Regions from separate parts of the Homo sapiens genome. Here region 1 is linked to region 2. Evidence: fine-mapped expression QTL. A gene starts in region 2. The other region holds a variant in brackets. All regions are shown on one strand. Distances are between the middles of the regions.

Region 1 (15,543 bases), 35 kb before region 2:
AGACTTAAAGAATGCTTTAAATTCTTCCACAAAAGTACTAGCTTAAGATGGCAAGGTCAAGTACTGAAATAGAAAGAACATTGGTTCTGGAGCCAGAACTGGGACACATCCTCACTCTGCTTGCACTATTTGTGTCACCTTGGCCACATCATGGAATTCCTGTGAGATTTAGTTTTTCTTCACTCTTAAGTAAAATTTTAGCTGGGCAATCTCTAAACTCCCTTTAAGTTCTGAAGACCTGTGATCCAAGATACTGTAAAAGTTTATAAACATGAGCATGTATTCCTGTGCTTAAAAATTCCCGGCTGGGCGCGGTGGCTCACGCCTGTAATCCCAGCACTTTGAGAGGCCAAGGCGGGCAGATCACGAGGTCAGGAGATTGAGACCATCCTGGCTAACACAGTGAAACCCCATCTCTACTAAAAATACAAAAAATTAGCCAGGCTTGGTGGCAGGCTCCTGTAGTCCCAGCTACTCGGGAGGCTGAGGCAGGAGAATGGCGTGAACCTGGGAGGCAGAGCTGGCAGTGAGCCGAGATCACACCACTGCACCCAGCCTGGGTGACAGAGTGAGACTCTGTCTCAAAAAAAAAAAAAAAAAAAAAAAAAAAAAAAAAATTCCCAATGCTTCTATTTGTTCTTAAAAGAAACTTAGACTTCCTATGCTGATTATACAATCAGCATAATCTAGCCCCTGCTTACTTCACTACCTGATCTCAACCTCTGCCTCTCTCTGTTTTTATAACATGCCAGGCGTGTTGCTGCATCAGAATGGAGCATGTATTATTCCCACTACCTGGGTTATTCTGAGCCCAGATCTTTGCATCACTGGCTCCTCTTCATCATTCAAATTCAGCACAGATGTTACCTCCTGAGAGAGGCCTTTCCCAAACTCTCAACCCCAAGTAGTCTTGGACCTTGTCTGACTGTCCAATACCCCATAGCACCCCCAGTACCTAGCCTAGTGCCTGGCACCAAAGTAGATTCTCAATAAATATTTACTGATTTCAGCCCCAGAATCAAGTACAGCTGTTCTATTTGCATCTTTTTTTGCATAATCAAGATAGGTAGGTCCCCAAATATGAAAAGATTTTTGGAAAGATGAAAAGTAGAAGTCACATTAGCTTCCCCGCCCACCCCCCCAAAAAAAATCTTGTTATAGCGGCATCAGCTTTAAGAACAATCACTAAAGTGAATGGATTGGGGCCAGCGATTACATCACATAAAAGTCATGGTATTCCAAAAATTAGCCGAGTGTGCTGGTGCACAGCTATAATCCCAGCTACTTGGGAGGCTGAGACAGGAGAATCACTTGAACCCAGGAGGCAGAGTTTGCAGTGAGTCAAGATTACACCACTGCAGTCTTGGTGACTGAGCAAGACTCTGTCTCAAAAATAAATAAATAAATAAATAAATAAATAAATAAATAAATAAAGTCATGATATTCACCATGTATTCAAAATACATGAGTATCTCAATAGATGCAGAAAAGGCCTTTGACAAAATTCAACAGCGCTTCCTGCTAAAAACTCTCAATACATTAGGCATTGATGGGACGTATCTCAAAATAATAAGAGCTATTTATGACAAATCCACAGCCGATATCATACTGAATGGGCAAAAAACTGAAAGCATTCCCTTTGAAAACTGGCACAAGACAGGGATGCCCTCTCTCACCACTCCTATTCAACATAGTGTTGGAAGTTCTGGCAAGGGCAATCAGGCAGGAGAAAGAAATAAAGGGTATTCAATTAGGAAAAGAGGAAGTCAAATTGTTCCTGTTTGCAGATGACATGATTGTATATCTAGAAAACCCCATTGTCTCAGCCCAAAATCTCCTTAAGCTGATAAGTAACTTCAGCAAAGTCTCAAGATACAAAATCAATGTGCAAAAATCACAAGCATTCTTATACACCAGTAACAGACAAACAGAGAGCCAAATCATGAGTGAACTCCCACTCACAATTGCTAGAAAGAGAATAAAATACCTAGGAATCCAACTTACAAGGGATGTGAAGGACCTTGTCAAGGAGAACTACAAACCACTGCTCAACAAAATAAAAGAGGATACAAACAAATGGAAGAACATCCCATGCTCATGGATAGGAAGAATCAATATTGTGAAAATGGCCATACTGCCCAAGGTAATTTATAGATTCAATGCCATCCCCATCAAGCTACCAATGACTTTCTTCACAGAATTGGAAAAAACTACTTTAAAGTTCATATGGAATCAAAAAAGAGCTCGCATTGCCAAGTCAATCTTAAGCCAAAAGAACAAAGCTGGAGGCATCACGCTACCTGACTTCAAACTATACTACAAGGCTACAGTAACCAAAACAGCATGGTACCGTTACCAAAACAGAGATATAGACCAATGGAACAGAACAGAGCCCTCAGAAATAATACCACACATCTACAACCATCTGATCTTTGACAAACCTGACAAAAACAAGAAATGGGGAAAGGATTCCCTATTTAACAAATGGTAGGCCAGGGGTGGTGGCTCACGCCTGTAATCCCAGCACTTTGGGAGGCCAAGGTGGGCGGATCACGAGGTCAGGAGATCGAGACCATCCTGGCTAACACAGTGAAACCCCGTCTCTACTAAAAATACAAAAAATTAGCCGGGCGTGGTGGCGGGTGACTGTAGTCCCAGTTACTCTGGAGGCTGAGGCAGGAGAACGGTGTGAACCCAGAAGGCAGAGCTTGCAGTGAGCCGAGATCGCTCCACTGCACTCCAGCCTGGGCGACAGAGTGAGACTCCGTCTCAAAAAACAAACAAACAAACAAACAAAACAAAACAAAAAAAAACAAAAACAAATGGTGCTGGGAAAACTGGCTAGCCATATGTAGAAAGCTGAAACTGGATCCCTTCCTTACACCTTATACAAAAATTAATTCAAGATAGATTAAAGACTTAAATGTTAGACCTAAAACCATAAAAACCCTAGAAGAAAACCTAGGCATTACCATTCAGTACATAGGCATGGGCAAGGACTTCATGTCTAAAACACCAAAAGCAATGGCAACAAAAGCCAAAATTGACAAATGGGATCTAATTAAGCTAAAGAGCTTCTGCACAGCAAAAGAAACTACCATCAGAGTGAACAGGCACCCTACAGAATGGAAGAAAATTTTTGCAATCTACTCATCTGACAAAGGACTAATATCCAGAATCTACAAAGAACTCAAACAAATTTACAAGAAAAAAACACACAACCCCATCAACAAGTGGGTGAAGGATATGAACAGACACTTCTCAAAAGAAGACATTTATGCAGCCAAAAGACACATGAAAAAATGCTCATCATCACGGGCCATCAGAGAAATGCAAATCAAAACCACAATGAGATACCATCTCACACCAGTTAGAATGGCGATCATTAAAAAGTCAGGAAACAACAGGTGCTGGAGAGGATGTGGAGAAATAGGAACACTTTTACACTGTTGGTGGGAGTGTAAACTAGTTCAACCATTGTGGAAGACAGTGTGGTGATTCCTCAAGGATGTAGAACTAGAAATACCATTTGACCCAGCCATCTCATTACTGGGTATATACCCAAAGGATTATAAGTCATGCTACTATAAAGACACATGCACATGTATGTTTACTGCAGCACTATTCACAATAGCAAAGACTTGGAACCAACCCGAATGTCCATCAATGATAGACTGGATTAAGAAAATGTGGCACATATACACCATGGAATTCTGTGCAGCCATAAAAAAGGATGAGTTCATGTCCTTTGTAGGGACATGGATGAAGCTGGAAACCATCATTCTCAGCAAACTATCGCAGGGACAAAAAACCAAACACCGCCTGTTCTCACTCATAGGTGGGAATTGAACAATGAGAACACTTGGACACAGAAAGGGGAACATCACACACTGGGGCCTGTTGTGGGGTGGGGGGAGTGGGGAGGGATAGCATTAGGAGATATACCTAATGTGAATGACGAGTTAATGGGTGCAGCACACCAACATGGCACATGTATAGATATCTAACAAACCTGCATGTTGTGCACATCTACCCTAGAACTTAAAGTATAATAAAAAAAAAATACTGACCTTCATCAATAAGCAGGAAAATACTTAGATAGGTACTATTTATTTACATTCTAATACATTTTACAGTTATTAAATACAACTGTCTTTGTACTTCTCTGCATTTTATTTTATGGATTTAAACTTGTGCAGCTCTTCCATTTACTAGCACAATGAACCAGAGCAAATTTCTTCCCCTCTGTTTCCTCGTGGATGAAATGAAGATTAAAAATGTGCATCACAAGGTTGTTACGAGAATTCACTGAGATGATTTTCATAATGAACCATAGAGCACCAGGCTCATAGTAGGTACCTAACAAGATATTCTTTCCATTGCCTGTCTCCCAAAACTCTTATGATTATGGAGTTCTTAATGAATTTCAAGATAATAATTGGTGTATGACATTATGACATTTTCCAGACCTGTGTACTGTTATTAAATCTTAATTGTAGCTACTGCTAAAAATATCTAAGACCAGTTGCTTAATCTGACTTTGACCTTGACATATTTAAATACTGACAGGGTGTTTGGAAGCCTAGTTTCAGTTTTGACTAGTGTTTTCTGAATAGCTTTGGGTAAATAATTTATTGTTTCTATCTAAAACAATGGTCCCTTGCCTTTGCATAACTTTCAGTACATAAGTTTGAATGTAATTTATAAAATTGAGATGGTTATTAATAAGAATAAAGAGATAAGGTGTTTTCTCAGAAAGCATGCATAATTAATATTATTGCCTTAATGATTAAATTGTACTTAATGAACCATATTCTGCCAGAGTCTGAAGTAGTCCCTTGTTAATTAGAATAACCTTTGAAATCATTACCTTTGGGTGTCTATTTGATATCAGCGAGGCGTGACATATTAAGTAGCCAGGTTATCCAGGCTCCAAAGATCAGTGCATTATAAATCACCAAGTATTTATGAAATGCCTACTTTTCTGTAAATTCCTTGAGAGCAGCAGCCATATATTTTTCATCCCCTACCATTTATGAATCACAGTTATCTGAGATGTATTAAATTTAGTGGCTTCTCTTCAAGGATTTATAAGGAAGATACGAAAATTGCAAATGGGTTTTTTTTTTACAATGGTTTCCCTTAACATAGTTTTCTATAGAAATGTATGCATATGTGTATTTCTATACAAATGCATAACTTTTACATAAGTAATTATATAAATGAAAATGGTAATAAAAATATATTTGTAATATGTAACATATTACTCTCTCTCTCTCTCTCTCTCTCTCTCTCTCTCTCTATATATATATATATATATATATATTTTTTTTTTTTTTTTTTTTTGAGACAGGGTCTTACTCTGTCACCCAGGCTGGAATGTAGTGGCACAATCTTGGCTCATTGAAACCTCCACCTCCCGGGTTCAAGCGATTCTCCTGCCTCGGCCTCCCGAGTAGCTAGGACTACAGGCGTGCACCACCATGCCCAGCTAATTTTTGTATTTTTAGTAGAGACGGGGTTTTCCCATGTTGCCCAGGCTGGTCTCGAACTCCTGACCTCAAGTGATCCACCTGCCTTGGCCTCCCAAAGTGCTGGATTATAGGCATGAGCCATCACACCTGGCCAATATACACTTATAAGTATATGACATAGTAAATATGCAATGCATTATGTTTCTAACTTAGTCCATAAACTTGAAGTGATCCCAAAATAAATAAAGCAACCAAATTGCTACTTCCTTTTGAGCATAATTACAATATTTAAATTTGTTGACTCATTTTTTTAAGAGACAGGGTCTAGCTCTGTTGCCCAGGCTGGAGTGCAGTGGCATGAACACGGCTCACAGCAGCCTCAACCTCCTGGGCTCAAGCGATCCTCGTGTGTTGGCTCCCTAGGTGCTGGGAACTAGGTGTGAGCCACCATACCAGGCCCATATATTTTAATATATAACAAGATGCCTAAGGATCATCACTAGGCCAGGTTTCCCTCCAAAGTGAATCTTTGGTTCACAACCACTATGTAAATCCCCAAACAGGATGGTGAGACTGAATTGGGGGAAAAGAGAGAGACAGAAAGCATAGGGAGTTGCCGTGAGTCACACTCCAGTGGCAGAAAAGGGACCAGGAGACTTTTGGTTTGTATTCCTCTGGCTCCCAGGAAATAATATTGGTAATAGGCTCTGCCAAAGTCAGTGTTGATGATTTATAAAGTGTCTATCTCTTGTACATCAGGTATTTATGACGCAGAGTCTATGGGATGTGTAGTGGATTTATCCACCAGACAGAAAGAAGTTCTGGATTTCAAGAGTGACTGCCCTGAAATTTTAGGCAAAGTCCAGATTGTATATCCATTACTCTGCAGAGGGTCATTCCAAAGCATTCTGTGACTCAAGTTAAGAGCCCAAAAGATAGGGTTTCATTTGCCCCCCATAATTACTTGGTGAGGGGGATAGTGTGAGGATCATTACCTCAGGGTCCTCCCCCAATCAGGGCCTGTGGGTAACAATTAGTGGCCCCACACAGTTCACCAACCAGCTGCTCAGCTAAGCGGGAGCCAAAGTGCATAGGAGCCATGAGCAGGACTGCTGTCTGGGGAGGGAAAGCGGGAGAGAATGGCAAACAAGCTGGAGAGAATTCCTCATGGTAACATTGTGAGAGGGAGTAGAAGAAGAAAGGCGAGCTCAAATGGAATTGAAGGTGTGATGTTGTGATATAGTAAGAAATACGTATTTGTTCTCTGCCCCAAGTCCCTGACACAGAGCTCCTACAACCCTTGTAATTTGCTGAGCAATAGAGGTGCTAGCTGCATCTTTTGTTCTAATATATTGTTTTTGACTGTGGTTCCTGACACTGAACTCCTAAATACTTTTGAGTTTCTTGGGTGATTGGAGCATCTTCCGTTCTAATGAGGTGGCTCTTGGTGGGCCCCTGGATGGGGGCTGCTTACCAGAAAGACCAAGCCATGATTAGAATCTTCGAGCTTTCAGGCTGGGCGTAGTGGCTCATGCTTGTAATCCCAGCACTTTGGAAGGCCGAGGTGGGTGGATCACATGAGGTCAGGAGTTTGAGACCAGCCTGGCCAACATAGTGAAACCCCATCTCTACTAAAAATACAAAAATTAGGCCTGGCGCGGTGGCTCACGCCTGTAATCCCAGCACTTTGCGAGGCCGAGACAGGCGGATCACGAGGTCAAGAGATGGAGACCATCCTGGCCAACATAGTGAAACCTCCTATCTACTAAAAATACAAAAATTAGCTGGGCATGGTGGTGCACGCCTGTAGTCCCAGCTACTCGGGAGGCTGAGGCAGGAGAATCGCTTGAACCC[G/A]GGAGGTGGAGGTTGCAGTGAGCCGAGATCGCAGCACTGCCCTGGCAACAGAGCAAGACTCCATCTCAAAAAAAAAAAAAATAGCCCTCGTGGTGGTGCGTGCCTGTAATCCCAGCTACTAGTGAGGCTGAGGCAGGAGAATTGCTTGAACCTGGGAGGCTGAGGTTGCAATGAGCTGAGTGAGATTGCGCCACTGCACTCCAGCCTGGGTGACAAAGCGAGACTCCATCTCAAAAAAAACTTTAAAAAGGCCGGGCACAGTGGCTCACGCCTATAATCCCAGCACTTTGGGAGGCCGAGGCGGGCGGATTGCCTGAGATCAGGAGTTCACGACCAGCCTGGGCAACACGGTGAAACCCTGTCTCTACTAAAATACAAAAAATTAGCTGGGCATGGTGGCCTGCGCCTGTAGTCCCAGTTAGTTGGGAGGCTGAGGCAGGAGAACTGCTTGAATCCAGAAGGCGGAGGTTGCAGATCACGCCACTGCACTCTAGCCTGGGCGACAGAGCAAGACTCCATCTAAAAAAAAAAAAAAAATTTGGGGATAAGCGCATAAAACTATAGGTTGACTAAAGGTAAGTGCTATTTTATAGATCTTGCCATATCTCACAGTATTTATCTCAATGTACAATTAAGGGCTCAATAAGCATGTATATTATGTTCATGGCAGGCACTATGAGGAGAAAAATAAAATTTAAAAATGATATATTACGGTTATAATAAGCAATAATAAATAATTATATTTATTATTATAATTAATAAATATAATGTGTTATATTGTATATTATAATTATATTATTTATAATAAACAATAATACATTAAAATCAAATTAATCGTTTTGCATCATTTATTAATGGTTAATTAATGATTGATGCACAAAAAAAGGGGCAATTTTTTTTGAAGCAAAGATGCAGTCAAATGAATGTGTAGATAAATGCTGCAAGCAGTGGATTAAAATTCAGGGAGTTGGCTGTGCACGATGGCTCACATCTGTAATCCCAGCATTTTGGGAGGCCAAGGTGGGAGGATCACCTGAGGTCAGGGGTTTGAGACCACCCTGACCAACATGGTGAAACCCCGTCTCTACTAAAAATACAAAAATTAGTCAAGTGGGGTGGCTCATGCCTGTAATCCCAGCTACTTGGGAGGCTGAGGTGGGAGAATCACCTGAACCTGGGAACCAGAGGTTGCAGTGAGCTGAGATCGTGTCACTGCACTCCAGCCTGGGCAACAGAGAGAGACCGTCTCAAAAAAAAAAAAAAAAAATTCAGGGAGTTCAAACTCCTGTGTGACGGGGAAGATGATTTGCACAAAGGCACATCCACATAAAAAGTGGCACATTCAGGAATACACTCAGCATTCCAGCATTCTTGATTCCCAGACTTAAGATTTTCCACTACTCTATGCTGCTGTGTTGGAGAGTAGTGAGAAGTAAGGCTGGACAGGTGGAGCCTGAGGGGGTTTGGGCCTTGAGAATCCAAGCTAAGGTACCTGAGTAGAGAAGCATCACAGAAGAGGCACTAGCCAATGGAGGAAAGCTATCATGGGTTTACACAGTGAGGAAAGAATTGATTTCTGGGCCAGGCATGGTGGCTCATGCCTGTAATCCTAGCACTTTGGGAGGCCAAGGCAGGCAGATCACCTGAGGCCAGGAGTTAGAGACCAGGTTGGCCAACATAGCGAAACACCTTCTCTACTAAAAAAAAAATACAAATATTGGCCAGGCATGGTGGTGCATGCCTGTAATCCCAGCTACTCAGGAGGCTGAGGCATTAGAGTTGCTTGAACCCACCACTGCACTCCAGCCTGGGTGACAGAGAGAGACTCCGTCTCAAAAAAAAAAAGAATTGATTCCATTCTATAGTCAGTAAACATCTAATGGTTTGACAAGTATTCAGCATCAGAATGAGAAATTTGGCATTAGGTAATTTATAATAAACACAAAAGATAAATAGGAAATATGACAATATGGCCTGGATTTGATAGCAGACACCTGTGCCTAATGGATGATGGGTGTCTGCCAACATTCATAAGCTTCAAAGATGCATCCCAGCCACAGACATAAAGCACTGATATGTAGGATGTCCTTGGGTACACAGGGCAGTTTCCTATGCTAGGGACATATCTTGCTTTAATTTCTCAGCAATGTTTTGTACTTTTCAGTGTAGAGGTCTTATACATCCTCCATGAGATATATCCCATGGTATTTTGTGTTTCTGATGCAGTTATAAGTTATTTTAAAATTTTCATTCCATTTGAGTTTCTTTATCTTTCCCTTTTTAAAATATAATTCTTTTAAGTATTTACATATGTTGGACATCATATTAGATAACATATAAATTTTTTTAACCATCAAATATGAAACTCTCAGTTTTAAGGACTTTCTTAAAACTTGAAAAGTGTTGCTGCGGTAAAGAAAGAGGGGAAAAATATTTGCATAGAGACACAGTTGAAAATATGAATCCCCTTATTATGACCATAATTTTTTGTTAAGACATGGAACCAGAAGATTTTGTATCAGAATATAGTTGATTTTGTACTAGCAATCAGTGATAAGACATATGATTCAGAATAGCTAGCTGTACTCTTGTCTGATAGTTTTTTATTCCAGATACAAAGCAAAATTTAATATACCAAATTTAATTTTGCCACTGGTAACCATTATAAAAGTGAAGACAGTTCTTCAAGAATATTTTGGTTTTCAAACAAAGCCATACTAAAAGATGCAAAAACATTCTTAAACATCCAAAATGTAATTAATAACATTATAATATAATTTAAATACTATAAAAAATAACAAAGTTAAAGCACCAGACTGCTCTACTTATTTTAAAAAGTTATTAAAAAGAAAAAGATGTGTGTGGCAGACATTAATTGCCTACTAAAAATCCATTCTTCCCTGCTTTCTTATTAATACAGTTTGTTTGTTTGTTGGTTGGTTGGTTGGTTTTGAGACAGAGTCTCGCTCTATCGCCCAGGCTGCAATGCAGTGGCATGATCTCGACTCACTGCAACCTCCGCCTCCCGGATTCAAGCGATTCTCCTGACTCAGCCTCCGGAGCAGCTGGGACTAAAGGTGTGCGCAACCACCCGGCTATTTTTTATATTTTTAGTAGAGACAGGGTTTCACTATGTTGGCCAGACTGGTCTCGAACTCCTGACCTCAAGTGATCCGCCGGCCTCGGCCTCCCAAAGTGCTGGGATTACAGCGGTGAGCCACCGCGCCAGCATATACAGTTCTGATTAGTGTGGGTGTCAATGTCCCCTGTTAAAGAGTACCTCCCCAGACTCCCTTGCTATTGGTGACCAGTAACCCACCTCTGGCCAATGAAAAACAAGTGTAATTCACTGGGTGGAACCCCTAAGGAAGTGTATTAAAGATGGCCGACTCAGCACCAGGCCTTTTGACTTTCTCCCTTACTCCTTTCCCTGTTTCCTTCCGATAATGTAGCTCAGTGCTTGGAGATGGAGCAGCCATTTTGACACCGTGAGAATAAAAACATGTAAGAAAGCCAGGAGGATCTCTGGTCTCAGATGGCAGCATTAAGCTGCCATTACTACCCTAGTTTACCTACTTGCGTGCCTGTTTATATAAGGGGGAAAAAAAAAAAACTAAAACCTTTTGGTTAATCAACTATGTCAGGGAAGGTCCTCGCCATCAGGATTTCTGATTCAGTGGGCTGGAGGTAGGACCCAGGAACTTACATCTTTCACATGAGCCCCAAATGATTCCCATGCCAGTAATCCAAGGATTATTTTACAGAAACTCTCCTTTGGTAGGTGTGAATTGGAAATTTAATGTTAACTGGGGAGTCAAGAGGATTATGAACTTGGGTGGGAGGGTAGCAAGTCAAATGATAAATTGCCAGTGGCATACAAAAGTTTACAAATGACCGCTTAGGCTTGATGTTATGATTTACTAACATTTTCCTTGAATTTTCTAAATTATGCTATGTCACAGAGAAATGAATGCTGATGGTAAAACTGTAAATTGTCTGCAGCAGCAGATTAAGTCCTTCAATCCTGGTTTAACTTTATTATGAAATCCCATTGAATAACTGAAACAAGAGTATTTTCTTCCTGAGGACAGTTGCTCTATAAAATATTGTCTTGGGTGAACTATACCAAGAAATATAAGATCTATTTGATTCACAGAAGTGCAGTTCAAGCAGTTCTGTTTCTAAAAGGCAATACTAAATATAATAAATGGATGCCACACCAGTTTAAATGTATAAATGGTTTTCATTGTCAACATCAATGCCAGATAATTCAATTTGTTTCTTCCTGAGATTATGATCTTATTTAGACATTAACCCGTTTTATTTATTTATTTATTATTTATTTATTGACTCAGGATCTTGCTCTGTATCCCAGGCTGGAGTGCAGAGGTGCCATCATGGCCCACTGCAGCCTCAAAGTCCTGGGCTCAAAGGATCCTCCCACCTCAGCCTCTGGAGTACCTGGGGACTACATGCATGCGCCACTACGCCCAGCTAATTTTTTTTTAAAGATGGGGTCTCGGCCGGATGGGATGGCTCATCACGCCTGTAATTCCAGCACTTTGGGAGGCCAAGGTGGGCAGATCACTTGAGGTGAGGAGATCGAGACCATCCTGGTCAACAGGGTGACATCCCGTCTCTGCTAAAAATACAAAAATTAGCTGGGCATGGTGGTACGTGCCTGTAATCCCATCTCCTCAGGAGGATGAGGCAGGAGAATTGCTTAAACCAGGGAGTCGGAGGTTGCAGTGAGCTGAGATTGCACCAGTGCACTCCAGCCTGGTGACAGAGCAAGACTCCGTCTCAAAAAAAAAAAAAAAAGATGGGGTCTCACTATGTTGCCCAGGCTAGCCTCAAACTCCTAGGCTCAAGGAATCTTCCCAAAGTGCTAGGATTATAGACATGAGCCACTGCACCTGGTCCCCAGTTTTATTTTTTAACCATGACAGCTGTAGCTTTGTCTAGCGACAGCTCCCTTCTGAAAACAAATCCAGCAACATACTGTTGTTACACAAAGATACACTTATGCTATTGTTCCTTTTCTTTATAAGATAGTAAGCTCCTTAATGATATTTTTTTAAGATGGGTATCTCACTATGCTGCCCAGGTTGATCACAAACTCCTGGGTTCAAGCAATCCTCCCCTCTCAGCCTCCCTAGTAGCTGAGATTACAGGCGTGCACCACCACACCCAGTTCAGCTAACGCATTTAGAAGTAAATTGTATTGAGATGTAGGGTTATAATTCTTACACTGAAAAGTTTTGTAAAGTGTGTATATAGCAGGTATAAAATTATTACAATGGAATTCTAACTTTTTTTGGAGGGGTGGGGTGGGTGGGTCTCACTCTGTTGCCCAGGCTGAAGTGCAGAGGTGTGATTTCGGCTCACTGCAACCTCCGCCTCCTGGGTTCAAGTGATTCTCCTGCCTCAGCCTCCCAAGTAGCTGGGACTACAGTTGCCTGCCACCACCATGCCCAGCTACTTTTTGTATTTTTAGTAGAGATGTGGTTTCACTATGTTGGCCAGGCTAGTCTCAAACTCCTGACCTGGCCTGGCTAGTCTCAAACTCCTGACCTGATCACCTCCTGGCCGAGGTGATCTGCCCGCCTCGGCCTCCCAAAGTGCTGAGATTACAGGCATGAGCCACCGCACCTGGCCAGAATTCTTTCTTATGCAAGAGTTAGGCACTTAAGTGTGCTCAGGTATAGACCGAAATTAACTTTATATGTCTCTTAAATTATCCATGCAGTGTAATACAAATAATAGTTGTCCCTGGTCTTCAAAGACATGAATCCTTAAATACAGAATCCATACTTTCACACTTTCAGAGCTAGAAAGAACTGAGAAGAACTGACCGACAGGTTCAGACTGCCCATATCTGCCAAAGGCAGGGCATTCAGAGGAAAAGAAGGAAGTCACGGCCCTGCAGCAGTTCAGTCTGTTGGGGATGACAGCTTGTAAACAAGTAATTATAGTGGCTGTATCACGGGCCCATAAAGGAGAAAGCTGTGCGTTTGAGCCAGGGAGAAGGGCAGGCAGCCCGGGAAGACATCTGAGAGGAGGTACTGGCATGAGAGCGATATTGTAAAGGATGGCAAAAATAAGTCTGTGTGTGTTGCTCAGACAGAGGAAGGGCGTGACGTGGGGCAGGGATCATTTCCCAAGGCCAAAGCACAGGGTGTTTTTGAAGAGGGGCTAGATATCATGTCAGAGAGATTAAGCCCACAGTGAAAAACACCTCAAACACAATGCCGAGAAATTTTAACTTTATTCTGTAAATAATGGGGAGCCATTGAAGGATATTCAGCAGGAAAATGAATTGACCAGATACGCATGTTAGAAAATTTCCTCTGATTTTATGTGTTGTTTACAGTCCTTTTTGTATATCAGTCAGTATGAGAACCTTCGTAAGGAAATTGACCCCTTAACATAACCACTCTAATTTCTTTATATTTCCTCTGAAATTAGCACACAAAATAAGAACAACTTCCCATGTACCTCTATGTAGTGTTCTGATTATGACCCTTGGAGACTTCTCTCTGAATTTTTTTTTTTTAATCAATGCAAGTCCGGGTGCGGTGGCCACGTGTAATCCCAGCACTTTGGGAGGCCAAGGCGAGTGGATCACTTGAGGTTAGGAGTTCAAGACCAGCCTGGCCAACATGGTGAAACCTCGTCTCTACTAAGAATACAAAAATTAGCTGGGCCTGGTGGTGGGCACCTGTAATCCCAGCTACTGGGGAGGCTGAGGCAGGAGAATCACCCCAGGAAGTGGAGGTTGCAGTGAGCAGAGATAGCGCCACTGCACTCCAGCCTGGGCGACAGAGTGAGACTTTGCCAAAAAAAAAAAAAAAAAATCCATGTAAAAAAGAATTTATTCTTTTAATCTTTTATAATTTTTATTTTTTTGGTAGAGAGGGAGGCTAGCTATGTTACCTAGGCTGGTCTTGAACTTCTTGCCTCAAGCAATCCTTCTGCTTCAGCCTCCCGAAGTGCTGGGATTATAGGGGTGAGCTACTGCACCTGACCCCAAAAAATAATTTAATAGAAACTGTGTATCCAGTTCTTTTCATTCATGTAGTTCCTAAGGCCAGTTTTTAAGTGGATCTGTATAGAGAAAATGTTACCATGAGAATCCAATGTGTATTTTAAATGTAAATAACCACTAATGGTGAAAATAATGAAAAATAAGCTCAAATCTCTAGTAATTGTGCAATACTTGCAATTATATGATACTGATTTGATTGTTCTATGCAAAGGAAATTTAGAATCAAACCCAGTTATAAAGGAAATAATTCGTAGGATTGGAGTCCTGAATAATTATCCCATCTGTCCACAGGCCAGACAGAGGGGCAGCCTGTTTATCTATATTTATCATATACATATGTGTGCATTTATGGAATATAAAAGCACAAATAGAGATAATCTCTAAACTGAACATACTTTGAGACACAATCAAAAATTCAAATAGTAGGCTGAGTACAGTCGCTCATGTCTGTAATACCAGCACTTTGGAGGCCGAGGCAGGTGGATCACCTGAGGTCAGGAGTTCGAGACCAGCCTGACCAATATGACAAAATCCCGTCTCTACCAAAAATACAAAAATTAGCCAGGAATGGTGGCACGCATCTGTAATCCCAGCAACTCAGGAGGCTGAGGCAGGAGAATCACTCGAACCCAGGAGGTGGAGGTTGCAGAGAGCCAAGATCGTGCCACTGCACTCCAGCCTGGGCAACAAGAGCAAAACTCTGTCTCAAAAAAAAAAAAAAAAGATACCATTCCTTCTGAATGCTTCAGAGGAGAATCCATTTCCTTCCCCTTCATAGCTTCTAGAAACTTCCTGCATTCTTTGGTTCTTTCTTTGCCTCATTCCAGCCTCTTGCTTCTGTAGTCACACCTCCTAGTACTCACTTTGTTCCTCCTGCCTTTCTCTCATAATAACCCTGTGATTACACTGGGCCCACACAAGTAATCAAGGCTAATCTCCCCATCTCAAAATCTTCAATTTAATAACAACTGCAAAGCCCCTTTCACTGTGTAAGGCAACACATTCACAGTTCCGGGAGTTAGAACATGGACATCTTCGGAGAACCATTATTCAGCCTACCATAAGGTCTAATGTTCCTGAAAATCTCCTGTGCTGCATGAACCTTATTTTGAAGGTTCATGAACATCTGAACATCCCCAAGAGGCCAAGCCCACAGTGCTTCACTAG
Region 2 (15,543 bases):
AAGAAAGAAAGAAAAAAAAAGAGACCTCTTTGGTCACCTGTGGCGAGATTTCCCAACTTTCCAGTTAGACGGGAGAGAGTCTAATTTAGTGAGGATATGTCCTGGGAGATAAGGATGACCCCATGTACATCTTCCAATCCAATTACAAGATAAATACAGCCAGCCATGAGACCCACATGCCCATAGCCAGCCCCAAGGAGAAAGACAAGCAACCAGTGGCTAGGACTTATTCTGCCATTCCATGCACATTTGGTCACTTACAAGGGTGTGATTACATTGTTGGGGTGGTAACCTTCCCATATTACAGGTCTCAGTCTCTTCATAACTGTTACTATGTCTTTCAAAGCATAGGGACACTATGCTTGATACCTGCACTTGGACAGCTGTCATCCACCCAAGTCCATCATGCACAGCATAACAGGGCAGGGTGGAATTTAGCTGTTTCTTCATTAAACAAAAAAGACGCTTCCTTGTTTCATTGTGAGAAATGAAAGGGCTGGACCCTTTGTTTTTATAGTACATGGGAAAACGTGATGGATATTCACTCCAATCATAATGATGATCCCATAAACTCATATTGGCTGGCAGGATGTATCATGGCAGCACCACGGTGGAGGAGAGCTGTAGTTCTCCACACACCCGGCAATCCATTTTGTTGTGTAGGGAGGCTGAAGTTTGTGCCCAGCCAGCAAAGAGATTGCCTCTTAGCTAATACCAATATGTGTCCAGAATTGGGATATTAATCCAGATTTTTATGTTATTTATCTTTCTTGTTTCTTCTAAGCAGGAGCCAGATATCACTGGTTGGTTCACAGGAATAAGTGGAATCAGTCTCTTGTGTTCCAGCAGCCTGTGGGACTTCATAAGAAACAGACTTAATTCAAGATCAATGAGCCCAGCTGCTTCTTCCTTGAAGTGTAACTGCGGTTGAGGCACTAAGGAGTACTTACTTAGTAGGGTCCTTTCCACTGTGGGAAAGTTGATCTGCTAGGGACCATTTTTTCAAGTCATTAACAGGATCCCATTTCCTGGCTGGATTACAATAGGATTTTTTTCCTTAGTGAGGGAAGGAAGTCTCTCATTTCTGTATTCAAGAAGAGCTTTTTGCACCTGACCTAAGTTGGCAACATAATTCTGTAATTTGAAAGTATCTCCATCTACTAGGAAATCAGCAATTCTTTCAGAAAGGCTTTCCGTACATTATTTCAAAAGGGCTGAGCCTTCCACTGGGGCAGCCCAAACTTGCAGCGAGGCCACAGGCGATAGACGGAGCCAGGTTTCTGATGTTTCCTGTCAGAGCTTAGCAAGGGTCCTGTCTAAAATTTGATTGGTCCTTTCTACTTTTCCTGAAGACTGTGGCCTCCATGCGGAATGAAGACCATATTGAATTCCTAGAGCGGATGCTATGTCTTGGTTATTGTTGCTGTAAAGATGGGCCATTATCACTCTACAAGCTTTTAGGCAACCTGAATCTGGGAATCATATCCTTGAATGAAAATTTAGAAACCTTGATTGACTTTTCAGGCCAGATAGGAAAAGCTTCAATCCAACATGTAAAGAAAGGTATCAACCAACACTGATAAATATTGGAATCCTTTACATGGGGGCATTTGGGTATAGTGTGTTTGCCAATCTTCTTCTGGGTACGACCCCCTATGCTGAACAGGCTTTACTAATGGAGGAGGTAAAGTTTGGTTGTTTGAGGTTTTTTTGGGCACACAATTCACAGGCCCAAGTCACTTGTTTTACTGTTCTAAGAAAGTCTTTTCGGCCAGGCACGGTGGCTCACGCCTGTAATCCCAGCACTTTGGGAGGCTGAGGTGGGTGGATCACGAGGTCAGGAGTTCAAGACCAGCCTGGCCAACATGGTGAAACCCTGTCTTTACTAAAAATACAAAAATTAGCTGGGCATGGTGGCAGATGCCTGCAATCCCAGCTACTCGGGAGGCTGAGGCAGAGAATTGCTTGAACCCAGGAGGCAGAGGTTGCAGTGAGCTGAGATCACACCACTGCACTCCAGCCTGGGTGACAGAGCGAGACTCCGTCTCAAAAAAAAAAAGAAAGTCTTTCCCTATAAACAGATGAGCCATATTAATTGAAATGAGAAATCTCTTCCCAAATGAGTAGAGCCATGCCAATACTTAACTATTTTCCATTGATCAGCTCTTGGTACATATCATCTGTCATTTTCATCAATTAGCCATCTGGAAGTGCTTATAGTTAACCCATGGGTCTTAGCCCATTTTTGTTCTTTTCTAGTATTAACCATGCTCTAGTTTTATCGTCACCAAGGCAGTGGGCACCAACATGCCTACCAGATTAACTGGTTCCCTCAAATGAAGCTGCCTCAGCTGTAGCATCTGCAAAAGAATGCCCTTTTATTATTTTGGAGTTTTCTTTCTTTCTTTTCTTTTCTTTTTTTTCTTTTTTTTTTTTTTTTTGAGTCAGAGCCTTGCTCAAGTTGCCCAGGCTGGAGTGCAATGGCACGATCTCAGGCTCACTGCAACCTCTGCTGCCCAGGTTCAAGCAATTCTCCTGCCTTAGCCTCCCAGGTAGCTGGGATTACAGGCACGAGCCACCACGCCCAACTAATTTTTGTATTTTTAGTAGAGATGGGGTTTCACCCTGTTGGCAAGCCTGGTCTCGAACTCCTGACCTCATGATCCGCCCGCCTTAGCCCCTCAAAGTGCTGGGATTACAGGTGTGAGCCACAGTGCCTGGCATATTTTGGAGTTTTCTTTTTGATGTCCCTTGCAGTGAATCACAGCAACTTCCTTAGGCAGCAAGGAAGCATCTAGTAGATTTAAAATTCCCAAATAATGTTCTATAGGGGAGCCCTTAGAAGTTAAAGAGTCCCCATTATTTCCAAATAGCAGCATGAGCATGAAGCACCAGAAAGCCATACTTGGAGTTTGTGTACATGTTAATTCTTTTTTAAAATTATTATCCTTTTTTGAGACAGAGTCTCGCTCTGTCTCTAGCCTGGAGTGCAGTGGCATGACCTTGGCTTACTGCAAGCTCTGCCTCCTGGGTTCAAGTGATTCTCCTCCCTCAGCCTCCTGAGTAATTGGGACTACAGGTGTGCACCACCACGCCCAGGTAATTTTTGTATTTTTAGTACAAATGGGGTTTCACCATGTTGGCCAGGCTGTTCTGGAACTCCTGACCTCAAGTAATCCGCCTGCCTCAGCCTCCCAAAGTACTGGGATTACAGGTGTGAGCCACCACACCCAGCCCTAGTGGCCCGTCTTTTAAATCCTGCCAGCTGGAATAAATTTGTTCCATAGCTTGTGTACATGAATGATCTAGGGTGCCTTTGGATCCAAGTAGATACGTAGCTAGGATTAAGGTCTTCTGTTATACTTTAAGAGTTATATCAAGAGTATCTAGCAATAAAGCCTGATAATTTAATAACTATCCCCTACTCATCTATTGGTGCCCTTTAGCTTCTAGGGCCTCTGTTATTTGGTGTGGGGTCAAAACCTCCAGATGTTGTCCCAAAGTTAATTTATTGTCTTCATCTATGAGAAGAGCAGTTGTTGCAACTGCCCTGAAACATCTGAGTCATCCTGAAGCCACATGGTCAATTGGTTAGAAAAATATGCCATGGGTCAAGGGATGTATCCCTGTTTCTAGACAAGAACATTTAGGGCTGTCCCTTGTTTCTCAGCCACATAAAGGAAGAAAGTAAAGCCTGTCCCTAAACCCACGGGGAAGAATTGTCCAAGTTAACACAGAAACCAAAAGATTATTAGGTAATCAAAAGTAAAGACCACAATAGGGGACTCAGCAAAAGAAATGTTTCACTAGAGAAGGGAAATGACAAAGTTCTAGAAAGGAATGTCCAAGTTCAGGCCAGTAGCGGCAAGCAGGACAAGATTTACATGGCCTTGCCATTTGTAACCAAAAAGTAAAAGTCATTCCATTAGCAAGGAGATGAAAAAGAACTGCTGAAAAGCAATCTCCAGTTTTCCATCCTGGAGCAGTTCACCTAGGGGGGACTGGTATAATTGCTGCCAGGCTTAATCTTTCACATTGGACCTTTTCATTTAAAACTTGTAAATGCGAAATTCCAAGTAAGCTTTGCAAAAAAGGAGAGACAATAAACAATTCATTTAAGTGGTCTAGATCTAGGGAAAGTAAATATTACAGAGCCATTTGTCCCCAATGTCTTCTAGCAACATGCCAGAACAACAGGCAAATGGCCCATAACCCAAAGGCAAACAAGAAAAAGGAAAGTTAAAAACCTCAGGACCAGTTCAACAAGATCTCTCTCATAAAGTAGCAGTAAAGCATAGAAAGCAATCAGGAAACTGGCAAGTGGCAGCCTTTGGAAAGCTCTTACAGAGAGCACAAGGAGGACGAATCCACAGTGAATAATGGTTAACATCCCATTGTGCTAAACCCATTTTCAGCTGTGAGGGGCCTTTAATCCTCCCAAGTAGGCCTCAAACCCAATCTTAGATAAGTGTCCTTGTCCTTCATCGGTATAAAAATGTATTCCCCTTCTTACCCAAAGTCAGTCAGTTGGTCCTGCGCAGTCTATTTCTTTTGGGTTGAAGGTCTCACCTCAATAAAGTCCTTGGGAGTTGCCACAGGAAATGTTACTTAAAAGGAATTTTGTTCCAGACCCAAAAAACAGGTTCTTGGATCTCAGACAGGAAAGAATTTAGGGCCAGTCACAGAGCACAGTGAAAGAAGCAAGTTTATTAAAGACTACTCTATTACAGAGTAGGGTGTTCTCAGAAGGCGAGAGGAGGACCCCACACCAAAAATTATGTAGCTAGCTAAGAATAATGGTCTCATGTGCTTTAGTACAACAGCTTGTGATCCACTTGTGACAGAGTATTAGTAGTGTTATTCTCTGTGTAACTATTGATTTCAGCAAACATTTATGAAAATACTATTATCTTTAAAGAGAAACCTATTCTTAAACTAATAATGCTTTCTGTTCTCAAGATATCAGGACATCTTCTTAAGTTCTGGGTCTTGTTTAGTGAGTAAGAATCATTAGCTCGTTCAGCCAAAAGGTCTTGTTATGGGTAGAGGGTGTCCAGGTTCGTGACATCTTGAACAAAGAATTGGACAAAATGTACAAACCAAGGAAAGAATGAAGCAACAAAATCAGATTTATTGAAAATGAAAGTACACTCCCCAGGATGGGAGCAGCCCCTGTCTAGGGGCTCAACAGCTGGGTTACAGAATCTTCTGGGGTCCAAATACCCACTAGAGGTTTCTTACTGGTCACTTGGTGTTCACCCCATGCAAATGAAGTAGTGGCCTGCAATCAGAGGCTGAAGTAAAGTTACAAAGTTGCACTCCTATGCAAACGTCTGATTGAGGCCATTATTTCATTTGCATGGAGTGCACACCAAGTGGCCAATGGGAAACCTCTAGTGGGTATTTGGATTGATTGGTGGCTTTCTGCAACCAATCAGAGGTACTTTCAATTTTCCTTCTGCCCTGCAGAAAAGCAGGTTTGCAAAGGGAGTAACCTCTGGTCCTTCTGTTACTTAGGCATAGATAGTTGGTTTTTTCCTTTTGATTTAGTTCTACGAAGTCAGTGTGAATCAGCCTTAGGTTCCCTGCCTCCAGACCCTATTTTCCTGCCTCAGTCTTATTATGGAGAGTACTTAACTTTCTGGGAATGTAACCCAGCAGGTTTTGCTTTATTCAGCCTTTATTCAAGATGGAGTCACTCTGGTTTGGACTCCTCTGACAGCGGGAGTGAAGTAGAAGTGATAGGGTTTCTTTACAGTTCTTATATCCAACTATTTGATTTAGTCTATATGGAATTCCCCTTTGTCTTCTTTAGGAATATCAAAGCATTTCAACAGGTATTTAGTACCTGTGAGCTAGCCAACTTGTTACTTTGTATCTTTTTAAGTATCTACTCTTTACTAGTTATTGTCTAAGACACTATAATGTCTCTACTCACTATAGCAATCTTCTGAAGATTAGATTCCATTTTATAAGTGAAGATTCCAATTTTGAGGGGTGATACGATTTACTGGAACTCAGATCCTTCTGACTTTCAAATAGTTGTTTCTTGGACCAAAGGACAATGAAACAGTGATGACTATATCTGCATGAAAAGGGAAAAAGGGAGCTGTATCTGACTCTTCACTTTCAGAAAATAAGGTGGCTGCTGATGCTAACCTGAGAGCAGCATTAGGCTATGGGAAAGCTTTCTCCAAATTCAGATCATCATTTTGTTACAGGAAAGGGGTCCCAATGCAGACTACAACATGGGGTTCTTGGATCTCATGCAAGAAAGAATTCAGGGCAAGTCCGCAGTGCAAAGTGAAAGCAAGTTTATTAAGAAAGTAAAGGAATAAAAGAATGGCTATTCCATAGACAGAGCAGCCATGAGGGCTGCTGGTTGCCCATTTTTATGGTTATTTCCAGATGATATGCTAAACGAGGGGTGGATTATTCATGCCTCCCCTTTTTAGACCATATAGGGTAACTTCCTGACGTTGCCATGGCATTTGTAAACTGTCATGGCGCTGGTGGGAGTGTAGCAGTGAGCACCACCAGAGGTCACTCTCGTGGCCATTTTAGTTTTGGTGGATTTTGGCCGCTCCTTCACTGCAACCTGTTTTATCAGCAAGGTCTTTTTGACCTGTATTTTATGCTGACTTCCTATCTCATCTGGCGACTTAGAGTGCCTTAACCGTCTAGGAATGCAGCCCAGTAGGTTTCAGCCTCATTTTACCCAGCTCCTATTTAAGATGGAGTTGCTCTGGTTCATGCGCCTCTGACAATTTCATGTTAATTTTTCTCTTTGAATTCATGAGCAGCACTGAAGAGAGTGCATGAGGTTTCTGGAAAATAGCAATTTGAAGTCTTTTAGTCCATAAGATTCCCTGTTATAAATGTCTTCCTAGGCTGAAAAAAAAGTAATGGTTGACCATAAAAAAGATGGCGGCCGCAGCTTCTCCACAGCAACGGCAACGCCATTCTCAAGCAAGCGCATCAATATATTTAGTTCCGGCCTCTTTGCACGTCATTTCCGGCACCGGCATGGCCGGGTGAGCTGCAGGCTACCTTATTTAAGACCGGGAATTTAGTCAGCCTGGTGAGCCGACTCTGAGGAGATGGAGTATCGCTGAGGTGATGAGAGAGAATGTGGTTGTTAGCAACATGGAGAGAGAAAGTGGGAAGCCCGTGGCTGTTGTCGCAGTTGTGACTGAGCCTTGGTTTACCCAGCGATACAGAGAATATCTCCAGAGGCAGAAACTCTTTGATACACAGCACCGTGTGGAAAAGATGCCGGATGGCTCGGTGGCGCTACCGGTGCTGGGAGAGACGCTTCCAGAGCAGCACCTGCAGGAGCTGAGGAATCGTGTTGCCCCAGGCAGTCCCTGTATGCTCACGCAGCTCCCGGATCCTGTTCCTTCGAAGAGGGCCCAGGGTTGTTCACCTGCCCAAAAATTGTGTCTTGAGGTGAGTCGCTGGGTGGAGGGTCGGGGAGTCAAGTGGTCAGCCGAGTTGGAGGCTGATTTGCCCCGATCATGGCAACGGCATGGTAATCTCTTGTTGCTGAGTGAAGACTGTTTCCAAGCCAAGCAGTGGAAAAATCTGGGACCGGAACTCTGGGAGACCGTTGCCTTGGCACTTGGCGTCCAGCGTTTGGCAAAACGAGGGCGGGTATCACCGGATGGTACTCGAACTCCAGCAGTGACACTGCTGCTGGGTGACCATGGCTGGGTAGAGCATGTGGATAATGGTATCCGTTATAAGTTTGACGTGACCCAGTGTATGTTCTCCTTTGGAAACATCACTGAGAAGCTTCGAGTGGCATCGTTGTCCTGTGCTGGAGAAGTGCTGGTGGATCTCTATGCAGGGATTGGTTATTTTACATTGCCTTTCCTAGTTCATGCTGGTGCTGCCTTCGTCCATGCTTGTGAGTGGAATCCCCATGCTGTAGTTGCTCTGAGAAATAACCTTGAGATCAATGGAGTAGCAGATCGGTGCCAAATACACTTTGGAGATAACAGAAAACTGAAGCTCTCAAATATTGCAGATAGGGTGATCCTGGGGCTGATTCCCAGCTCTGAAGAAGGCTGGCCCATTGCCTGCCAAGTGTTAAGGCAGGATGCTGGAGGCATTTTGCATATCCACCAAAATGTGGAATCTTTCCCAGGGAAGAATCTTCAGGCTCTTGGAGTCAGCAAAGTAGAGAAAGAGCATTGGCTGTATCCTCAGCAAATTACCACCAACCAATGGAAAAATGGAGCTACCAGGGATTCTAGGGGAAAAATGCTGTCACCAGCCACCAAGCCAGAGTGGCAAAGGTGGGCAGAATCTGCAGAAACTCGAATCGCCACTCTTCTTCAGCAGGTGCATGGGAAACCATGGAAGACACAAATTCTGCACATCCAACCAGTGAAATCCTATGCTCCCCATGTGGATCACATAGTCCTGGATCTGGAATGCTGCCCCTGTCCTTCAGTTGGCTAGAGGAGGTAGATCCTGGGACACATGGGATCCACGTGCGAGTGGCCCTTAAATGTATCAGTTCAGTCCAGGTTGTCATCCCTTTTGTCCCCTGGTGATCAGTTTTTTTCATATTTTATAGCCCTGAAAGCAGGCTCTAGATCAATTCAAATTATTTCATTTGTCTTTCATTGATAACAGAAAATGAAATACCTGTTTGGGAGAAGCAGCATGGCCCATTGAAATGAGGCTCATCTGTGCAATTATGAATTCCAAATTCTGACCTCAGTTCTGGAATTGAAGTTTCAGTATGTTTTGGCCTCGGGTTTCGTTATTTGCAAAATGAGAGTTTCTTTGAACTGTCTCACGTGACTATTAAGCAACTATACACAGGACATCGGTTATTTTAGAGTGAAAGACACAGTGCTTTTTCCAAATTGCTCTGGCTACCATATAGAAAATTGACTGAAGGAGGGCCAAGATGGAAACAGAGAGACCAGTGAGGAGGCTTCTGTGGTTGTCCAGGTCTGAGGTGATGGTAACTTGGACTCGGATGGTGGTAATGGGAGGTAGATTGATATGATAAATAAAATTGACAGACCAAGCAATGGAATCAGAATTAAGTCCTTAACATGAAGCTGCTTTGTTATTATGACTGACTAAATTAGAGAGAGAAGGGAACAAAAATTATTTTAGTGTATTTCCATTCCCTTACTGTGGCATTCCTAAATGATTGTGAGGGGTTGTCTTATAAATTTGGTTTGTTGTGGTAGAAATATGGTTAAGAATCACCAGTCTATTTTTTTTTTTAAAGCTCATCTGCTGAGGACGAATCACTGTTCTAAATCATAGGGAATCTAGATTTCTAGCCTCAAGCTTGTGCAATAGCTGCCAATTAATACTTATTAGTTTAAAGTTCCTATTAAAATCTTAGATTCGTATAGGCCTCATACTCCCTCTTCATCTTCCTACCGTGGCTGAGAACAGGAGGGACAACCTAAGAAGCTATAGGGAATGTGAGATATTCTGCAGAGCATTTCCAGCCTCACCTTATTTTATGGCTGTCTGCCATAAAAGATGGTTTGCCACTGGAGTGAATAATTGTTTGTTGTTTTGTTTGTTTGCTTTTTTGTTTTTTTGAGACAGAGTCTTGCTCTGTCACCCAGGCTGGAGTGCAGTGGCACCATCTTGGCTCACTGCAACCTCTGCCTCCCAGGCTCAAGCGATTCTCAAGCCTCAGACTCTCAAGTAGCTGGGATTACAGGTGTGCAGCACCATGCCCAGGTAATTTTTGTATTTTTAGTAGAGATGGGGTTTCACCATGTTGGCCAAGCTGTTTTGGAACTCCTGACCTCAAGTGATCTGCCCACCTCGACCTCCCAAAGTGCTGGGATTACAGGTGTTAGCCACCACGCATGACCCAAGATGACTAATTGTTGATTACCACTCAGAGCTTTGTTCTGGTGTATTTTGAAGCTATCTAGGCTGGTTTGCTAGGTGAAGGAAATATAGAAAAGTGTGGCCTTGTATGATTGTACCTGACATTTGGCTGGCTGGATTTGGGCATGGCTACTCATCCTTCTCTTGCAACAGTAGCAGTAAGGACAGGTTGGTGCTGTTTGTGTTATCCAACAAATATTAAGTGCCTATTATATACAAAAGCCACAGGAAACATAACGATCCATTAGATAGAGTTCCTGTCTCTGAGAAACCCACAATCTAGCAGCAGAAATAACACAAGTACTCAAAGAAAGACTTGGAATGCAGTAAGATGAGTGCCATGTGAGTGATAGCACGTTGTAGGAATGAAAAGGTGGGAAAGGAGTTCTCAGAACTGAATAGTGAAGTCTTCAGAGGTAGTGTTTGAATTGGCTCATGAAAACTGGGTAAGATTTTGATGGGTAGGTTGCGGGTAGAAACAGGCACTAGTAGAAGAGAATAACAGATGCAAAAGTTTGAATCCTCAGAAAATGGTATGTTGTTATTAGATAAGTTTGGAACAGAGGAAGCAGTGAGAGATGTGTTGAAGATGGGGGTTGTTGTAAGGATTAAAAAAGCACTGTGTCTTGTACACAGTAATCCCCTAGGGAGATGTTAGCCAGCATGTGATCCCACCACAAAAACAAACAGCCTGCTTATTTCCATTCCCATCTCACAGAGCGGTCTTCCTGTGTTACCTTAATCATCTCCTCCTTTTTTTTTTTTTTTTTGTTTGAGATAGAGTCTCACTCTGTCACCCAGGCTGGAGTGCAGTGGCACAATCTCGGCTCACTGAAACCTCTGCCTCCTGGGTTCAAGCGATTCTCCTGCCTGAGCCTCCCAAGTAGCTGGGACTACAGGTGTGTGTCACCACGCCTGGCTAATTTTTTGTATTTTTAGTAGAGACGGGTTTCACCGAATTAGCCAGGATTGTCTCAATCTCCTGACCTTGTGATCTGCCCGCCTCATCCTCCCAAAGTGCTGAGATTACAGGCATGAGCCACCATGCCCAGCCAGTCATCTCCTCTTTTACATAGTGGGTTTTTCCTCACTTGTGTGTCCATGGCTTGCTGTCCTCAAACTATAAAGATACCAACCTGGAGGTTGAGCCAATATGGGAAGGGAACAAGGAGAAACAATGAGGAAGAGGAGCCAGAGAGTCAGTCTGGGGACTGAGGATTTGCCTTTTTGCCACAAGCTCTGGATAGACAGCTGATGTCAGGTGTGGCCAGTTGAACTCATTCGACCAACAGTTGTTGGACTCCTGCATGCTTGCACTCTCCCTCTCTCATATATATATTATATATATATTCATATAATATATATATCATATATAATATATATATATTCATATATAATATATATTCATATATAATATATATATTCATATATAATATATATATTCATATATAAATATATAAATAAATAAATATATACATATATATATGGGCCCTGTGTGTGCAGTGATGTAAGACTGACATGGCTCTGCCTTCATATAATTTATTTGTTTTTATTTTTTGGAGATGGAGTCTCGCTCTGTCGCCCAGGCTGGAGTGCAGTGGAGCGATCTCAGCTCACTGCAACCTCCGCCTCCCAGGTTCAAGCAATTCTCCTGTCTCAGCCTCCTGAGTAGCTGGGATTACAGGCATCTGCCACCATGCCCGGCTAATTTTTGTATTTTTGGTAGAGAGGGTTTCACCATGTTGGCCAGGCTGGTCTTGAACTCCTGACATCAAGGGATCCACCCGCCTCGGCCTCCCAAATGCCTCTTAGAATTTAGATTCCACTCATTCAACTCCTGACTCCTCTACTTTCTGGGTGACCTCAGGCAAGTTATGAATCTCTCAAGATTTAGTTTCCTTATCTGTACATTAGGGTTAACAATTGTACATATCCTGTAGGGTAGTTCTTAGGTTTAAATGAATATATGTTAAGCTGTCATCATCGTGACTCACTGAGTGGTGAATACTTTTGTAAAATAAAAAGTATCTGAGACAGGTCTCAATCAGTTTAGAGGCTTATTTTGCCAAGGTTGAGGACACACATGGGAAAAAGACACAAGTCACAGTAGGATCTGTGGCCCACACATTTTTCCAAAGAGGATTTTGAGGGCTTCAGTATTTAAAGGGGAAAGTGAGGGTAGGAGGAGTAGGGGTAGAGGAAAAAAACAAAAAGGAGTGTAGGTAGTGAGTTAAGTGGTCACATTCTTGTGAGGCTTTGATTAGTGCTCACTGAATCCACATGTTACATGTGAAGTGGGGTAGAGGAACAGTCAATTAAGCATTTGTCAGGACTCAGTAAATATGCATATGTCTGAGGTGGGCAGAGGGATGGTTTCTAGTCTTGACTTTGTGCTGTATCTGTGAAGATAAGCTGTTTACATTGTCAAGGTAAGGGAGGCCAACTGAGGAGATATGGAATCTTCTATCTTGCGGCTGTGTTTAGGCAAAAGGAAAGGCAGTTTTTTTGCATGACTGAGTTTCCAGGCTTCACTTTTCCCTTTGGCATAGTAAGTTTGGGGTCTGACTTGTTTGTTTGTTTGTTTGTTTGTTTGAGATGGAGTTTCGCTCTTGTTGCCCAGGCTGGAGTGCAATGGCACGATCTCAGCTCACCACAACCTCCGCCTCCCAGGTTCAAGCGATTCTCCTGCCTCAGCCTCCCGATTAGCTGGGATTGTAGGCATGTGCCACCACGCCCGGCTAATTTTTGTATTTTTAGTAGAGACAGGGTTTCTCCATAGTCAGGCTGGTCTCGAACTCCCGACCTCAGGTGATCCACCCACCTCAGCCTCCCAAAGTGCTAGGATTACAGGTGTGAGCCACTGCGCCCGGCCTGGGGTCTGACATTTTATTTTCCTTTCACACTTCATTCTATCAGTCAGTCTTTGTATATGATGAACCACCACTTTCCAATTTGGCTGTGAGGGGTTGCTGTATGTCTGGCCTACTTGAGGCAGAATGTCATTATTTTGAAAAGCCATTCACTGATTAATTAGGAGATACTGTGTACTCTCTCCATTAAGCGCTGTGCTTGGAGCCAGTGACATAGAGATGAATAAAACTGAGTCCTGCCCACAATGGGATCACTATCTGGTGACACAGATACAGAGAAAACAATGTCAGTGCTGTTTACTGAGTGCTTAGATAGAAATAAGGGTTTTTATGGGCACACATAGGAGAGGCAGCCACCCTCATTTGAGGATGTGGGTTGAGGATTGAACAGGGTGACTAGGAAGGTAGGAGCAGGGATGCCTAAGGGAGTGTTAAAGAATGAGCAGGAGTTAATGTGTGGATGGAAGAACAGAAGCCTCCCTTAAGCTTTTTCTCTACTTAAGCATGTTCATTTACATTTTAGTTTTCTTTGAGGACTTGCTGGATTGCCCTGGTTGGGAAGAGGCATCTTATGGAACCAATGAAAAAAGACTGAAGGGTTCGGGAGGCTCATGGGGTCCTTGTCATCTCAGTCCAGCAATTTGTATAAGCTCTAAAGGCTTCCCATGCAAGCTTCAGTATTAGTTGCCAGTCAATGCAGCCACCTGATAGAGATATTGTGATTTTTAAAAAATAGTAATTTTTAAAAACTCCCTCAAACTTGAGCTGCTTTATTAACTTTGTAATTTAAAAAATTATATGAGTGCAGTAATATATGAGTACAATATGTGCCTTTGAAATACACAAATAGGCCAGGTGCGGTGGCTTATGCCTGTGATCCCAGCACTTTGGGAGGCTGTGGCAGGTGGATCACCTGAGGTCAGGAGTTTGAGACTAGCCTGTCCAACATGGCAAAACCCTGTCTCTACTAGAAATACAAAAATAAGCCAGGTGTGGTGGTGGGCTTCTATAATTCCAGCTACTTGGGAGGCTGAGGCAGGAGAATCTCTTGAACTCAGGAAGTGGAGGTTGCAGTAAGCCGAGATTGTGCCACTGCACTCCAGCCTGGGCAACAGAGCAAGACTCTGTCTCAAAAACAGAAAAACCATACACGAACAGAAATTAAAAATAGTAAGAAACAAATAGAATTTAAATTTCATTTTCTCCTACCCTGGGCATACATGTGACAAAATCCAATATATATCACTCTGAACAGCCTCAGGGTACAGCCACTTTATATTGCACAAGCTGTAAAAGTAGTCATTTTCAAACTCAACTATTATTTAAAATGATTACAAGCATTTAAAATGTTTAAAATAAAGATCCAACCCTGTTCACTTGGGAAACAGTTGTGGCAGTTCCTTAAAGTGTTGAACATAGGGTTAGCATATTACCCAGCAGTGAATTAACCAAATAAATAAGACATATGTGATAGAGGTATATATACCCAAGAGAATGCAAACATATGTCCACACAAAGGCTTGTGCGTGAATATTTGTAGCAGCATTATTCATAGACAAAATGTGGAAACAACCCAAAGTCCATCAACTGATGAGTGGTTAAACAAAATGTCATATATATACAATGGAATCTGTAAAAAGGAATGCAGTACTGATACATGGTTTCTGGATGAACCTTGAAAACATTATGCTGAGTGAAAGAATCCAGTTGCAAAAGGTCATTTATTGTATGGTCCCATTTATATGAAATGGCCAGAATAGGCAAATCTATAGAAACAGAAAGTAAGTTCCCAGGTGCTGGGGGGAGTGGAGAATGGAGAATGACTGCTAATAGGTACTGGGTTGATTTTGTGGGAAGATGAAAATGTTCTGAAAATAGATGGTGGTGATGATTGCACAACTCTATAATATATGAACCAGCCATTTAATTGTATATTTTTAAAGGGTGAATTTCCCTACTTGCTTCAGCAACATATATACTAAAAGGGTGAATTTTATAGTATGTGAATTATATCTCAATAAAGCTGTTAAAAAAAAAAAAGCAAAGAACTTGGAAACACTTCCTACAGGAAGGAACACCAGAGCTGCATTTTATTATTTTTAGGGTCTTGCTTTGTTGCCCAGGCTGGAATGCAGTGGCGCAATCAAGGTTCACTGCAGGCTGGGTGCAGTGGCTCACACCTGTAATCCCAGCTCACGCCTGTAAACTTTGGGAGGCTGAGGTGGGCAAATCACACCTGAGGTCAGCAGTTTGAGACCAGCCTGGCCAACATGGTGAAATCCTGTCTCTAATAAAAGTACAAAAATTGGCCAGGTGCGGTGGCTCATGCCTGTAATCCCAGCACTTTGGGAGGCTGAGGCGGGTGGATCATAAGGTCAGGAGTTCCAGACCAGCCTGGCCAAGATGGTGAAACCCCATCTCTACTAAAAATACAAAACTTAGCCAGGGGTGGTGGTGGGCACCTGTAGTCCCAGCTACTCGGGAGGCTGCGGCAAGAGAATCGCTTGAACCCAGGAGGCAGAGATTGCAGTGAGCCAGTATCACACCACTGCACTCCAGCCTGGGTGACAGAGCAAGACTCCGTCCCCCAAAAAAAAAAAACATACGAAAATTAGTGAGACATGGTGGCAAACACCTGTAATCCCAGCTACTCAGGAGGCTGAGGCAGGAGAATCGCTTGAACCCGGGAGGCGGAGGTTGCAGTAAGCGGAGATCACACCACTGCATTGTAGCCTGGGTGACAGAGTGAGACTCTGTCCCCCACCAAACAAACAAACAAACAAACAAAAGA

What was found.
Region 1: its variant is fine-mapped to the expression of TYW2 in whole blood (INTERVAL, PIP above 0.99).

The regions. Positions count from the first base shown.
Region 1 is chr8:124,409,229-124,424,771 of GRCh38, forward strand. No RefSeq gene overlaps it. Among named protein-coding and RNA genes, the nearest start is that of TYW2, 34 kb to the right of the region's middle. The variant G/A (reference allele first, on the strand shown) is at 7,329.
Region 2 is chr8:124,443,809-124,459,351 of GRCh38, forward strand. TYW2 (tRNA wybutosine-synthesizing protein 2) reads left to right here and starts at 7,012. Exons shown (of 1, transcript NM_017956.4): 1 at 7,012-9,218. The coding sequence starts at 7,120. The coding sequence ends at 8,466.